2 separate regions of the Homo sapiens genome follow, and region 2 is reported to be linked to region 1. Evidence: microRNA targets listed by miRTarBase, many of them from high-throughput screens and not tested one by one. Region 1 holds a microRNA gene; the other region holds the end of a gene's coding sequence.
The links. Region 1 holds the annotated microRNA hsa-miR-371b-3p (AAGUGCCCCCACAGUUUGAGUGC, at 3,155-3,177, shown strand). A microRNA usually pairs through its seed, bases 2 to 8, with sites in the 3' UTR of a target mRNA and lowers its output. Matches are read on the target gene's strand: a 7mer-m8 pairs with bases 2 to 8, a 7mer-A1 pairs with bases 2 to 7 and ends in A, and an 8mer does both.

Region 2: miRTarBase lists TBC1D21 as a target of hsa-miR-371b-3p. Seed matches in the 3' UTR shown: 7mer-m8 at 776-782.

Annotation. Positions count from the first base shown.
Region 1 is chr19:53,783,739-53,790,854 of GRCh38, reverse strand. It overlaps MIR371B (microRNA 371b), which reads left to right and starts at 3,113; the gene lies at 3,113-3,178. MIR371A (microRNA 371a) reads right to left here and starts at 3,180; the gene lies at 3,114-3,180. MIR372 (microRNA 372) reads right to left here and starts at 2,965; the gene lies at 2,899-2,965. MIR373 (microRNA 373) reads right to left here and starts at 2,150; the gene lies at 2,082-2,150. It also overlaps LOC124904767.
Region 2 is chr15:73,888,381-73,895,496 of GRCh38, forward strand. TBC1D21 (TBC1 domain family member 21) reads left to right here. Exons shown (of 11, transcript NM_153356.3): 10 at 50-133; 11 at 689-834. The coding sequence ends at 721. Among named protein-coding and RNA genes, the nearest start is that of TBC1D21, 18 kb to the left of the region's middle.

The DNA.
Region 1 (7,116 bases):
TTGAGGTCAGGAGTTTAGTGAGACCAGCCCGGCCAACATGGGGAAACGCCATCTGTACTAAAAATCCAAAAAAAATTAGCTGGGCATGGTGGTGGGTGCCTATAATACCAGCTACTCGGGAGGCTGAGGCAAAAGAATCGCTTGAACCTGGGAGGTGGAAGTTGCAGTGAGCCAAGATCATGCCATTGTACTCCAGTCTGGCGACAGAGCGAGACTCCATCTCTTTAAAAAAAAAAAAAAACAAAAAAAAAAACACAAAAACAAAAAACCCTCAACTAACAATCCCCAAGCTGCCCGTAGAAAAGATGACAGGAGGCCCAGGTAGGTCAAATATAAAGAGAAGTCTTACTGGTTACCGTGGCGGACTCCCCACCAGTGGTGGCGGTATTGGGACAGAGGCTACAACTGCTTTATGAATTGCGGGTACAAATAGCAAAACAAAACTCCCTTGAATTTGAGATCTTACTTCAGTTCAGATACTGTGGAGTGGGCAAAGCAGCCGCAAGGGTTTGGAACACCTACAGGGGATAGGAAAACTTACAGGGGATAGTGGCCAGCAGACCCGGAAACCAGTGATAGGGCAAACAGCAACTAAGAACCTACTGAAGGCCCCACGTGGTGGCTCACGCCTATAATCCCAGCACTTTGGGAGGCCGAGGTGGGTGGATCACCTGGGGTCAGGAGTTCCAGAGCAGCCTGGCCAACGTGGAGAAATCCCATCTCTAAAAAATGCAAAAAATTAGCCAGGCGTGGTGGCTTATGCCTGTAATCCCAGCTACTTGGGAGGCGGGGGCAGGAGAATCGCTTAAGCTGGCAGAGGTTGCAGTGAACCAAGATTGCGCCATTGCGCTCCAACCTGAGCGAGAGCACGAGACCATCTGAAGCAAAAAAACCTTCCAAATATGAACTTAGGCCTGGCACTGTGGCTCACACCCATCATCCCAGGGAGGCCACCCAGGGCAAGACAGTAAAGCCCCATCTCTACTAAAGGAGGGATGTTTGATTCCCCCTAAGTTTCAGACCAAGCTGGCCAATGTATGAGACCCCAATTTCTACTAAACATTAGTGGAGCATGGCGGGGACACTCCTGTGGTGCCAGCTACTAAGGGTGGGGTGAGGGGGGGCTTATATGGGAAGATCTTTTGATCTAGGGAGCTCAGGCCTGCAGGGAGCTGTGATGGTGCCACCACACTTCAGCCTGGGTGGTTTTTATTTTTTGAGACAGTTATCGCTGTCACCCAGGCTGGAGTGCAGTGGCACAACCTCGGCTGGCTGCAAGCTCCACCTCCCGGGTTCATGCCCTTTCTGCCTCAGCCTGTGACTACAGGCACCCACCGCCATGCCCGGCTAATGTTTTTGTATTTTTTAGTAGAGATGTGGTTTCACCGTGTGAGCCAGGATGGTCTTGATCTGACCTCATGATCAGCCTGCGTCGGCCTCGGCAGTGCTGCCACTGTGCCCGGCCTTACTTTTTAAACTTGTTTGAAGTTTAAAGAGCAGAACTCTCAAAGAGCATAACTCTAAGTTCTAGCAGGGGTAGAAGGGAAGCACAAAATACTGACAAGTATTTTTAGGCAATGTACTTGGGTCATAGAAGAAGGTTCAGTAACGCCAGACATGAGGCTCATGCCTGTAATCCCAGCACTTGTGGGTGGCAGAGGAACCCAATAGACCAGAAACACATGATGTTGTTCACATTTTATTAAAAAAAAAAGTTAGGAAAAGTGAGACTGTGGCATTGTCCGTGTAGCAGGGTGGAAGCACTCCAGCCCATGCTCTGGCCAAACCCACTTCAAGCCTTACATGCATGCTGCCTACCAAATTCAGGAACAGGACCCCAAATTCCCTTTAAGGCCAACCAGATTCCCCCGACACCCCATCAAGCTTTTCCTGCCCTGTTCATCTGCAGGTGAACCCCGTATCCTGCCCACCCCAGAATATGCCAATTTTTATTATCTAAAATGGAGCATACAGACTGGTGCCCCGCAGAGAAGCCCGGGAACTCCAGGTCATAGCTGAAGCTGCAGTCAGACCCGCAGGCTCCCTTGAAGCAGGATGGTTCGTGATGCCCTACTCAAACAGGGACACCCCAAAATCGAAGCACTTCCCAGTACAGACAAAAAGGAAAGCGCCCCCATTTTGAGTATCCCAGTATGAGCTCCTCGCGAGGATCTGCCATCACTGTGACTTTCTTGCCTACAAGAGGTTGGCCTCCAATCATCCAAGCACATGTTAAATGTCAGCAATAAACTTGCTTGCTATGGGGGAAGAGGAAAGTTACATATCAATTATAACACCAACAGCAAAAAGCATTCCTTTCTTTGTGCATACAGCCCCTTGGTCACAGCTGCTGTTTTTTTTTTTTTTTTTCTTTGAGAATGAGTCTTGCTCTGTCGCCCAGGCTGGAGTGCGGTGGCGCGATCTCGGCTCACTGCAAACTCCGCCTCCCGGGTTCACGCCATTCTCCTGCCTCAGCCTCCCAAGTAGCTGGGACTACAGGCGCCCGCCACCACGCCCGGCTCATTTTTTGTATTTTTAGTAGAGACGGGGTTTCACCGTGTTAGCCAGGATGGTCTCGATCTCCTGACCTCGTGATCCGCCTGCCTCGGCCTCCCAACGTGCTGGGATTACAGGTGTGAGCCGCCGCGCCCGGCGCAGGCGCACAGCCGCCCTCTGAACCTTCTCTTCCTTTCACCATCTAACCCAGATTCCCTTAGTTGTGTCAGGTGAGAGCCCAGGAGGCCCCCTTCCCTTCCCCAGGTTTTCCGGAGCCATTACAGCCAGACGCTGTAAGGGACCTGTACCCAAGACAGTTTCCGGCTGGGAATCGAAACCACAGGCTCTTTAGTTCCTGCAGAAGACCGAGCTCCACGGCATCCGTTGATATGGGCGTCACCGGTGACGCTCAAATGTCGCAGCACTTTCCACTTGGACATCAGAATAGTGCTCCACATTTGAGGCCCACAGGGTGAGCAGCTCCATCTGCAAGAGCCCCGGCCAAGAAATTTATATCACGAGGAAACGGCCATAGGCAGGGTCTAGGGCCATCCTGCTACCCGCCCCCTCACCCAATCAAAATGGTATCTTCTCCGCAGGTTGAGTCTTCTCAAGCGGTAACACTCAAAAGATGGCGGCACTTTCACCAGAGAGCAGAAAGTGCCCCCACAGTTTGAGTGCCACAGGCTGAGGGGATGCGGCAAGGCGGCGATCGCAAGTGGAAGCACTTACCCATCAGAAGAGGCTTTTAAGCAAGGAGGTGGAGAGTAGCCCTTGATGAGCTGTTGAAGGTCTACAAAGCACGAATTTAACGACCCTTTCTTAAAAAGTAAAAAACAAGGCTTTCCACGTATAGATATTCAAAGCACTCCCCCGCCCATAGCCTCCAGATGCAAGCCATGAGGACTGAGTACAATGCAAGTAGGAAGGAACACGTGTGAGGGACAGTGGGGCCTTCGTCCTTAAGACTGAAAAAAAATCACAGAAATAGAACAAAAGTACAGCCCGGCTGGGCGGAGTGGCTCAAGCCTGTAGTCCCAGCTACTCGGAAGGCTACGGTGGTAGGATTGCTCTTGAGCCCAGGAGTTCGAGACCAGCTTGGATAACATAGAAAACCCCATCTCTCCTAAAAAAAAAAAAAAAAAAGCAGAAAAACGCACATGGGAATGGTGGTGCGCGCCTGTGGTCCCAGCTACTGGAGGCTAAAAGGGTGAGTCCCAGGAGGTCGAGGCTGCAAGGCGCCATCATCCTACCTGTGCACTTCATCCTGGGCGACAGTGAGATCCTGACCCTAAAAAATAAAGTAAAATGAAAGAAAATAAAATAACATAGCAATACTCACAGAGGCCAATGATACGTCCACACCTCAGGTCTGCCAGAAAGAACAAGGTTCACTGCAGCTGCGTTCTTATATAGGGTGAGAGCCCACTCAACTTTGATAGGATTAAAGCCCACCCCTTCCCACCCTCTCATTCCCCCTGGTCTCCGCCCCAAGCCACCCTGCTCCCTTTGATCCTAGCTTGCCTTAGTCAGACACACCTTCATAAACTTTTTCAAACACTGATTCAAATAGAAATTAGGTGATCCCTATTACTAGTAACGCCAACATGTATTCGTTATAAATACATTGGAAAACACAGAGAAATAACCAGAAGAAAATCATTCCACCAGTCATCCACTCAACAAATATTTAAATATAGTATTTTGGCAGAGCGCAGTGGCTCACACCTGTAATCCCAGCACTTTGGGAGGCCGAGGCGGACGATCACTTGAGGCCGGGAGTTCGAGACTAGCCTGGGCAACATGGCGAAACCCCGTCTCTACCAAAAAAATACAAAAATTACCCACGCATGGTGGTGTGCACCTGTAATCTCAGCTGCTTGGGAGGCTGAGGCAAGAGAATTGCTTGAACCCGGGAGGCAGAGGTTGCAGTGAGCCAAGATTGTGCCACTGCATTCCAGCCTGGGGACAGAGTGAGACCGTGTCTCAAAAAATAAATAAATAGGCTGGGCACAGTGGCTCATGCCTATAATGCCAGAACTTCAGGAGGCCGAGGCAGGCAGATCACGAGGTCAAGCGATCGAGACCATCCTAGCCAACATGGTCTCTACTAAAAATACAAAAATTAGCTCGGCGTGGTGGTGGATACCTGTAGTCCCAGCTCCTCGGGAGGCTGAGGCAGGGGAATTGCTTGAACCCAGGAGGCAGAGGTTGCAGTGAGCCAAGATCGCCCCACTGCACTCCAGCCTGGGTGACAGAGTGAGACTCCATCTCAAAAATAATAATAATAAATTTTAAAAAAATAAAAAAGCTGGGTGCGGTGTGGCTCACACCTATAATCCCTGCTACTCAGGGGGCTGAGGTGGGAGAATCCTTTGAACCCTGGAGGTGGAGGTTGCGGTGAGCCGAGATCACACCACTGCACTCCATTCTGGGCGACAGAGTGAGACTTAGTCTCAAAAAAAAAAAGAGAGGGAGAAAAGAAAAAAACAGTGCGGCAGTGAACATTTTTGAGAGCAACTTTGATAAAAAAGCGGAAACATTTCTGATTTTATTTAATGAAACCACTAGAGTTCCTTTGACCTTGAGGCATAGAGAGGAACTCAAAAAGGTGGGTGTTGGAGAGGTGAGGAGGGGCTTGAAAATGGTAAGTGCTCAAAATAATGAATGACTCAAGGAAGGGGAAGACTTGGGGCCCCAGGAGGCCAGGGTTTCCTTCCCATTTGTAATCCTAGCCAGCTGCGGGAGTACGTGCTCAACCTTTCTGGTTAAACCTAGTTCCTTCATCAATGAAAATGTACAGCATTTGCTGCAAAGGATGGCGAGAGATAGAAATGAGACAGCAAATAGCATGTTTGGCGAGAATCGCTAGAACCCAGGAGGCAGAGGTTGCAGTGAGCTCACATCACGCCACTGCACTCCAGCCTGGGTGATAGAGCCAGACTCCATCTCAAAAAAAAAAAAATTCTTGCTTTGATCTTTGTCAAGGTTGCGGGAGGTCAGTGCTTATGTCCTTACAGCTCAGCCATCCAGATTCCTATCTAACCTACTCACTCCTCTCACACTGCACCTGGATTTTCTGCTATTTGTGAACCACCTGGATGATCTCTCGGGTATTTCCTAGAACTCGGCTTTTTCTCATCACCTCATTTTGTCTTTGCAAATTTCTCCTTTAAGGGCGGCTTTCTTCTCCTGCCCTTGGGCCAGCACAGCGAGTTCATTGCTGACTTTTTTTTTTTTTTTTTGAGACGGAGTCTCCCTCAGCCACCCGGGCTGGAGTGCAGTGGCTCGATCTCGGCTCACCACAACCTTCGCCTCCCAGGTTCAAGTGATTCTCCTGCCTCAGCCTCCCGAATAGCTGAAATTACAGGCATGTGCCACCACGCCGGCTAATTTTGTATTTTTAGTAGAGACGGGGTTTCTCCATGTTGGTCAGGCTGTTCTCAAACTCTCAAACTCAGGTGATCTGCCCGCCTCGGCCTCCCAAAGTGCTGGGAATACAGGCGTGAGCCACCGCACCCGGCCAACGTTTGTATTTTTGAATATAAAAAATGTTATTAGTGCAATTGAATTTAATCAACATTCAACAAAGAGTATAGTCAAAGACGATTTTTAAGTGCATTTGAAAGAGGACTGCAGGCAGTGGCTCAAGCCTGTAATCTCAGCAATTTGGAAAGCTGAGGTGGGAGGATCTCTTCAGCCCATGAGTTCAAGGCTGCAGTGAGGCCTGATCCTGCCACTGAACTCCAGCCCAGGTGACAGAGCAAGACCCCATCCCTGGAAAGAAAGAAAAAAGAAAAGAAAAAAGATCCGCTGGGCACGGTGGCTCACACCTGTAATCTCAGCACTTTGGGAGGCCGAGGTGGGCGGATCACCTGAGGTCGGGAGTTCAAGACCAGCCTGGCCAACATGGAGAAACTCCGTCTCTACTAAAAATACAAAATTAGCCGGGGTGGTGGTGCATGCTACTCAGGAGGTTGAGGCAGGAGAATCGCTTGAACCCGGGAGGCGGAGGTTGTGGTGAGCCGAGATCGCGCCATTGCACTCTAGCCTGGGCAACAAGAGCAAAACTCTGTCTCAAAAAAAAAAAAAAACAAAGAATAAAGAAAAAATATCCAATGTGATATTTTACTTTTTTGTTGTATAATTTGTTTAAAAATATAGAGATGGGCTGGGCATAGTGGCTCATTCCTGTAATCCCAGCACTTTGGGAGGCTGATGCAGGCGGATCAGTTGAGGTCAGGAGTTCAAGACCAGCCTGGTCAACATAAGAAAACCCCGTCTCTACTAAAAAATACAAAAATTAGCCCGGTGTGGTGGTGGGCGCCTGTAATCCCAGCTACTCGGGAGGCTGAGGCAGGGAGAAATGCTTGAACCTGGGAGGCAGAGGTTGCAGTGAGCCGAGATCACACCATTCACTTTAGCCTGTGTGACAGGGCAAGACTCCGTCTCAAAAAAAGAAAAAGAAAGAAAGAAAAAAAATACATATATATATATATATATATGAGAGAGAGAGAGAGAGAGAGAAGAGAGAGAGAGAGAGGGAGATGCTGGTCTTGCTTTGTTGCCTAGGCTGGTCTCAAACTCCTGGGCTCAAGCGAACCTCTCACCTTGGCCTCC
Region 2 (7,116 bases), not on the chromosome of region 1:
AGATGTTTGCCCCAGCCCCACCCACAACTGCTCCCACACTCCCATGCAGGCCTGCAACAACCTCATCGACCTTGATGCTGATGAGCTGATCTCTGCCGCCTGCGTGGTTTATGCTGAGCTCATCCAGAAGGATGTAAGTTGCCCCAATGATGTGTCCTCCTCCTCCTCTTCCTCCTCCTCCTCTTCCTCCTCCTCCTCCTCTTCCTCCTCCTCCTCCTCCTCCTCTTCTTCCTCCTCCTCCTCTTCTTCCTCCTCCTCTTCTTCTTCCTCCTCCTCTTCTTCCTCCTCCTCTTCCTCCTCCTCCTCTTCCTCCTCGTACTCCTCCTCTTCTTCCTTCTCCTCCTCCTCTTCTTCCTCCTCCTCCTCCTCCTCATCAGAGCCTATCCTGATCTCCCAAACGCAGCCCATGGCAGGTGCATTCAACTTCAGAGACACAGACTGTGCCACGTTCTCTACCACTGACCCATGCATGTTGCTCCTCATGGTCTTCTCGTTGTTTGCACATGTAGCTCCTTCCTCCCTGAGCAGGCTGTACTACTTGAGAGCAGGGCCCTCATCCCCCATTCCCTGTGTCCATCCCAGTGGGTCTGGGCACCCAGAGGCTCAGGAGAATGTCGCTGCTTAGAAGAACCGAAGAATGAAAGGGACAGACCAATGTCTGTGCACCTCCCACCTGCCTCCTCCCTAGGTTCCTCAGACATTAAAGGATTTCTTCCTCTGAGGACACCAAAGCCCGCAGTGGACTGATGCCTTCGATGGGCAGGATGAAGGCCAGGGGCACTGGAGTGAGGGAGTAGATAAAACAGCTGCAATATAAACAGTCCTCTGGAATAATGGTTTGTGGTGGATGCTATGTCTTTGACCTTAGGGGCTGGGACGCACATGAGGGCTGAGACAGGGTCGTACGATAGGAAGAGAGGCTGGCTGGCTGAGAGACACATTCTGAGACTAGGGAGGGTGCTTGCTGGAAGAGACTGGGTCAGTGGCTCCTCCTTGATGGAGGGTTTTCCAAGGCTGCGGTGGATCCATATCTGGATACAAATGGTTAGAGTAGAACCAGCTCTGAAAGGCTTCCAGACCCCTGTGGAGGACAAAACTGAGCACATTTAATAAGGATTAGTTCATCTGGACTTAGGTCCTGAGAGGAAGGCTGGTCCTGGGGCTCTGCCCCCACCCCCACTGCTCCCCTGAGTCCTGTCACATCAATCACACAATTAAGTCATTTTTTCCAGAGATTTCCTGCTAGTCTGTGGAAGGGGCTGGCCTGGAAGAACTATCTGATGAGCAGGCAATTCCCTTCCTGGTTTCAAAGCCTCCCTCATAATTGTGCCTTCATTTATCAGCCTGCAAATGTGTCCTCAAGCTACATTTTATTTTCCAGTCTTGATCAATCTTTCTTGAGAATGCACTCTTTGCCCTTGGCCAGGCAGTCAGTTGCTCTGTGAGGAAAAGGTGCATCACACCTGCTCCCCCAGGCTGTGCCACAGCCCTGAGCCCCTGTCCAGCCTGCCCCATGCTCTAGCTGGCCCCTCTGAGGGAAGACATGTAGATGGGCCAGAAAGGCTGAAACTGCAGAAGGGTTGGGGCTGGCTGGGTGCCCCCAGAGCTGCTCAGCAACACACATACATACACACATACACACACACACGAATGCACACACATACACACTGCCCTGCCCAGTGACTACAAGTTTTCAGGAGGGCTGACATTACACATGGGCAGGAGGGATCCCTTGCTTTTGCTGTGAACTGGTCCTTAGAGGTAAGGCATGGCCATCCCTCTCACTCTTCAGCCAACTGTCCCTCCCTCTGCTCCCATCCTGGCACTCTTAGTGACCATCACTCCAAAGCCATTATGTCCCCAATGAGTGCTTGGTCTCCTTCCCCTCAGGCGACAGTCTCCCATCCAGGACCAGCTCTGAGTCTCTTAGCTGCTGTATCTTTGCTGGAAGGTTGAGGGGGAATGCTGAAGAATGAGGGCCTGTCCCCCCAGCAACACCTTCTCTGCATGGCTAAAGAGCTCATGTTTGCTGGGCAGGGAGGCACATGGGTCAATTCATATACTACACTTCTCCTTTGCTTTTATGTTCCTAAGGCAGTTTATTTAAATAAGTGTTCCCGCATGAAAGACAGTTCTCCAAGGATGAAACTGTGTTTGCATTTTGCCAGAGAGGCAGAGAACAAGAGTAAAAGACATCTTGCTGAGCTAGTTTTGGCCTTGGGAAGAGAACAATCAATAGAAACATCAGATGAACATTTTCTAATGCTTCTTTTAGACTGGTGACTTCAGATGGCCGATTATTTTTGGTTGGGACCTACACACAATGCCAAACATCTATTTCAAAACAAACATTTAAGAACTCATCTTCTAGACCACTTGCTGTCAAATCTGTTGTTAAAAGCACTGGAGCCCCTTTATTACACAGTCCTTCCCAGGAGCCCAGCGGATGAAGTTTGGGTGCAGATCCCAGAGCCCTCTCCCCCGACCACCCCTCTCAAGCCCCCCTCCTTGAACCTCACATCATTTCCTGTGTTATCTGCAAGGAGCCTCTTGTCTACTAGGGTGCATATTTGAAAACCTGTTAGGTCTTAAGGACGAGGTGGATTCAATCTTGACACCAAATTGATCCAGATTCAGATAAATCCCAGGTGATGGAGTGATGAAAGTAACAATCTTGGAAGAGTGGAGCTTCTCTCAGCTCATCTGCAGTACTCCCAGCCCAGCAGACTGTAGATTAGGATCTTCCCACCATGCTGCTATGCAGGTCCTTAAAAATAACACTGGGCTGTATAATTCATTCATTTATTCCCCCTTCTCTGGCTCACTTAGTTTATCATTTATACAGCCCAGTGTTGTTTTTCTCTAGTAGGGTCCATTCTGGAGATAGAACTACAGGAAGCATTGAAATCCTAGAGCCTAAGTTTGTGTTATGACAGTCTAGTTTATTTCAGCATGCATTTATTCAGTACTGTCTTAGACCATTTGGACTGCTCTAATGATGGCAGTGGCAGCCCATCTGGAGCAGCCACTGCCATGATGCCAGCTGCAGTGGGGGAGGCGCAGTGAGGGCTGCATGCTCCATGGAGCCAGTGGGAGCCAGAAACAGGCAGGAGCCCCGCCCCCTTCCAAGTTGGAGGGGTGGGAGCCCCACCCTCCCTGGCACAGCTGCAGCCACCCTGCCATGGCTGTGGACCCAGGCATCTCTGCACTCTTGGGGGCCCTTGAAACCCCCATGCCCTCACAGGCTCAGAACTGCCTGCTCCCACTGCCTGGCCTCTCCCCACTCCTGGTGCCCACTCTGATTTCGGAGCAAAGCTGTGGCTGAGACCAGGTGCTGTCACAACCCGGCCAGGTGTGCTCACACCTGGGGCAGCACTTACACACCAGCCCCATGCCTTCTTGGCCCCCCTCTGGACTTTGGGCACCGACAAGCATGGAAGAGAGGCTGAGGGGGTGGGTGCTAAGGATGGCTCGGCATGGGCCTTCAGGCACCCCTCATCATGAACAGCCTGGGCACCGTGGATGGCAGGTTAATGACAGCAGGAGGCAGGCAGATCCTGGGTGGAAAGGGGCAGATCCTGGTGAACCCCACCTTCAGGCCAGGGACAGTCTGAGGACTAGGGGCCAGGCTGCCAGTTCCACAGACTGGAGTGACAACCTATGGGGCTTTTTCTGGGTCTGCCCATGGCCACCCATGGACAAATCAGCATGCACTTCCTCCCCTCTGAAGCCCATAAAAATCCCCAGACTCAGCCAGCCTCAGGCAGACTACCGGATGACCTGTCTGTGGAGAGGAGCTACTCAGGGCGGGTCTCCTCCGAGCTGTTCTGTTGCTCAATAAAGCAACTCTTTGCCTTGCTCACCCTCCACTTGTCCACATACCTCATTCTTCCTGGATGTGGGACAAAACTTGAGACCCACCGAATGGCAGGGTTGAAAGAGCTATAACACAAAGAGGGCTGAAACCCACCCCTTGCTTGCCATGTTGCAGGTGACAGGAAGGAGAGAAGAGAGGAGAGAAGAGCTATAGCCTTTTGGGGATCCCAGACCTAGGAGCTCCCCAAGCCAGGGCTGTGACATCGTCTTTGGGGCTCTGTGGTTCTTGGTGTCTCCAAGCTTCCATGCACCGCTGCGTTCCCTTGTGCCAGCCATGGATGCTGTTTGTGGTACTCCTGGTCCAGCTGCAGCCAGCACCCATACCAGCATCTGGAGCTGCCCCTCCCACCACAGCTGGCATGCTTGGCTGTCTGTGTGCAGTGGCCAGACCCCACACTCATTCGTTCACACACACTTCAACACTCCATGTCTGGCTCTCCCTTGGCAAGTGTGGGCTCCAGGCCAATAGTGCGAGCCGAATGCCTGCCAGGCTGAGTGGGCAAACAAGCCCAGTAGGCCCGAGCAAAACTCAGGCAAAGGCGTCACTGTCCACACAGGTTTCAAGCTGGAAAGGAATACCTCAAGAATTCCATGACAATAACACAATAATGTCAGTGATGATGGCGGTGATGGTGATGGTGATGTCGGCGACGTCAGTGATGGTGGTAGTAATGTCAGTGATGGTGGTGAAGCTAATTATATGGCGGTGTTGGTGGCAGAGGTGTGATGTCATTTATGATGGTGGAGGTGGTAGTGATGGTGACATCAGTGGCAGAGGTGATATAGAATCTGGTGGTGGTAATGATGTCATCACTGGTGGTGGTGATGATAGTGCTGACTTTTCATTCTGCCAACAAAAACTGACTGTCTCTAATGGTACTCCTTAAATAGTGCCAGAGGAAAAGATGAGATTCAAGGAAGGGACTGAAGGGGATTGCAGTGGGGAGGGCTCTGATATTGATGATGGTGTTGGTGGTGAGGGCAATCATGGTGGAGATGAAAACAGTGACTAATTCATTCTGAAAAAACTAGTGCCCAGCACACTTCCAATGAGCAAGGCCTAGACATAATATCTTTAAATGAATCACCGTGGCCATGAGCATAAAGAAAATGGAAGCAGCCAGGCCCCATCCAAGCTTTCCAAAACTTGGTCCTGAGCCAGATATGAAAGCTTGGATTGGATTGGCTGCATTTCTTCCAAGCTCTCACCCTCACCTCTCTTTCACTCTTCTTCTAAGCCTCTTCCCTGGAGAATTCATTCATTTATTCCTTCTTCTCTGGCTACATTGAATGACCCCAAGGCCACTTTTTGTTCCTGGAGTTAGGATAATAGCTCTCTACCCACTAACAACTGCACAGAGGCACCGTGGATAAAACTCCAAGTTCTCTGGGCCCCAGGGTCTGTGTTACCCCCCTCAGAGAGGAAGAAAGAAGGTGGGCTTTTGCACCTACCCTCAGGCTTGCCAGCAGAACCGAGTCCTGGCCTGAAGCCACCAGACCTTTGGTCAGTGGGGAGGAAGGGATACTCCCTCCTTTCAGGAGGAAGAACATAGCTACTAGGAAGGGCCTCCACTGCCCAGGACCCAACCCCAAAGGACAGCTGGTGGGCTGGAGCTTCAGGAGGTCACGAACAAGGGCACGTGACCCCTACCCTCACAATTATACAGAAGCTGTACTAATTGGGTAATTAATATGTTCCACGCCTTGTGCTAAGCACTCGCATGCTTTATCTAACAGAATCAGAATTCTGATTCTGATTTCACCCTCATGACTGAATTCAAACTCAGAAACAGGTGCAGTCATTACCCTCTCATTACCAGCGAGGAACCTGAGGCACTGGGTTACACAGCTAGTGATTTGCCAAGTCCGGATGTGAATGCTGATGGGCGAACCCCAGGGCCCCACTGTTATGCCATGGTATTGGCTCTTGGGCAGCTTCCGTTTTCACCTCTTTCCCTGCCCACAGCCTCACTTGGCGTCTGCCATCCTCCCGCAGCCCACACTGAGTCTCCTGTCTGGTCCTCTGCAGAGCAGGCCCTCATCTCACAGGCCACCCCACCCTTGGCAGCTGAAGCCCCACCGATGGGCCGAGATGGTCCAGGGCTGGATGACAGGGGTGGTGTGTGCAGGAAGCTCTGTCCTACTTCCCTCGTCCCTCTCTATGCCTTCGATTACCCCAGTAAGTGTGGGAGGGCCCAGATGCAGCCATGTTTACTGCATCTTGTTTTGAAACAAAGCTCTGAACATTCCTTGTGCATTCCTTCTCCAGGATGGGGAGTGGGCTGGGGGTCTGGGGTTGCAGGAAGTCAGTCTGCAGGGGTGAGTGTGGGGACCCAAGATGGGGCTGGCAGGTCCCGCATGGAAGCAGCAGCAGCAAAGCCTGGGCAGCTGGGGTGGGCCAAGTGTTGTGAGGGGAGAGGCGCGCAGCTCTGGGAGACAGGGTGGAGGAGGGCTGTGCAGGAGTAGCCTCTCTTTCCTATCCCTGCCCCTGCCGACCTTTCTCTGGACCAGCCCCCATGGCAGAGACCCCCTGGATGGAACAAGACCAAGGCAGAGAGGAGGGAATTTCCAGTTGGTGCCAAGTGCCATCAGCCACACTGCTCAAGAGGGAAAAGGACTTATTTCTGGGACCTCAAACAAAAGCACTAGCTCCACTGTCCTGCCAGACCCTGGTGCTCGCTGAGCTTGTAGTGGGGAAGAGATTCACAACCAGAAATGAAGGAGGCTGGTGGCAGGCACGGGAGGGCGGAGTCACAAGCAATAGCATTTAGTCTGGGTGCACATTAGAATCACCAAGGGAGCTTTTTAAAAATAACCAATTCCCAGGGCCCACCAATTAAACCAGCATATCTAGGGGTGGGGCCAGGGCACTGGTCTTTTTCAAAAGCTCCCAGGTGGTTCTAAAGTACGGTCAGGAATGAGAACACCTGAGTTCAGAACAGGAGTTTAATGAAGGGGGATTAGTGATCAGCTGGTTTGACTCCTTCCTTCCACTTAGAGGGAGTTCAAGGAAGTCCTCACAGTGAGTGATTACGGACCAGAGAGGACAGGAGTGACTGTGCAGGGCACTGTCCAGGAGCAGAGCTTGTCTCCGCAGTCGATCTCCTGTTACTCTCCTTCCTGGACCACACCAATGGCTGCCCTCTTTCCAGGAGCTCTGGAATAGACCTCCCTACCCTCCCATCTTAGAGCCCTTCAGCTGACTGACTCTAGAATTAAGCATTCCAAGTTCTATTCTGA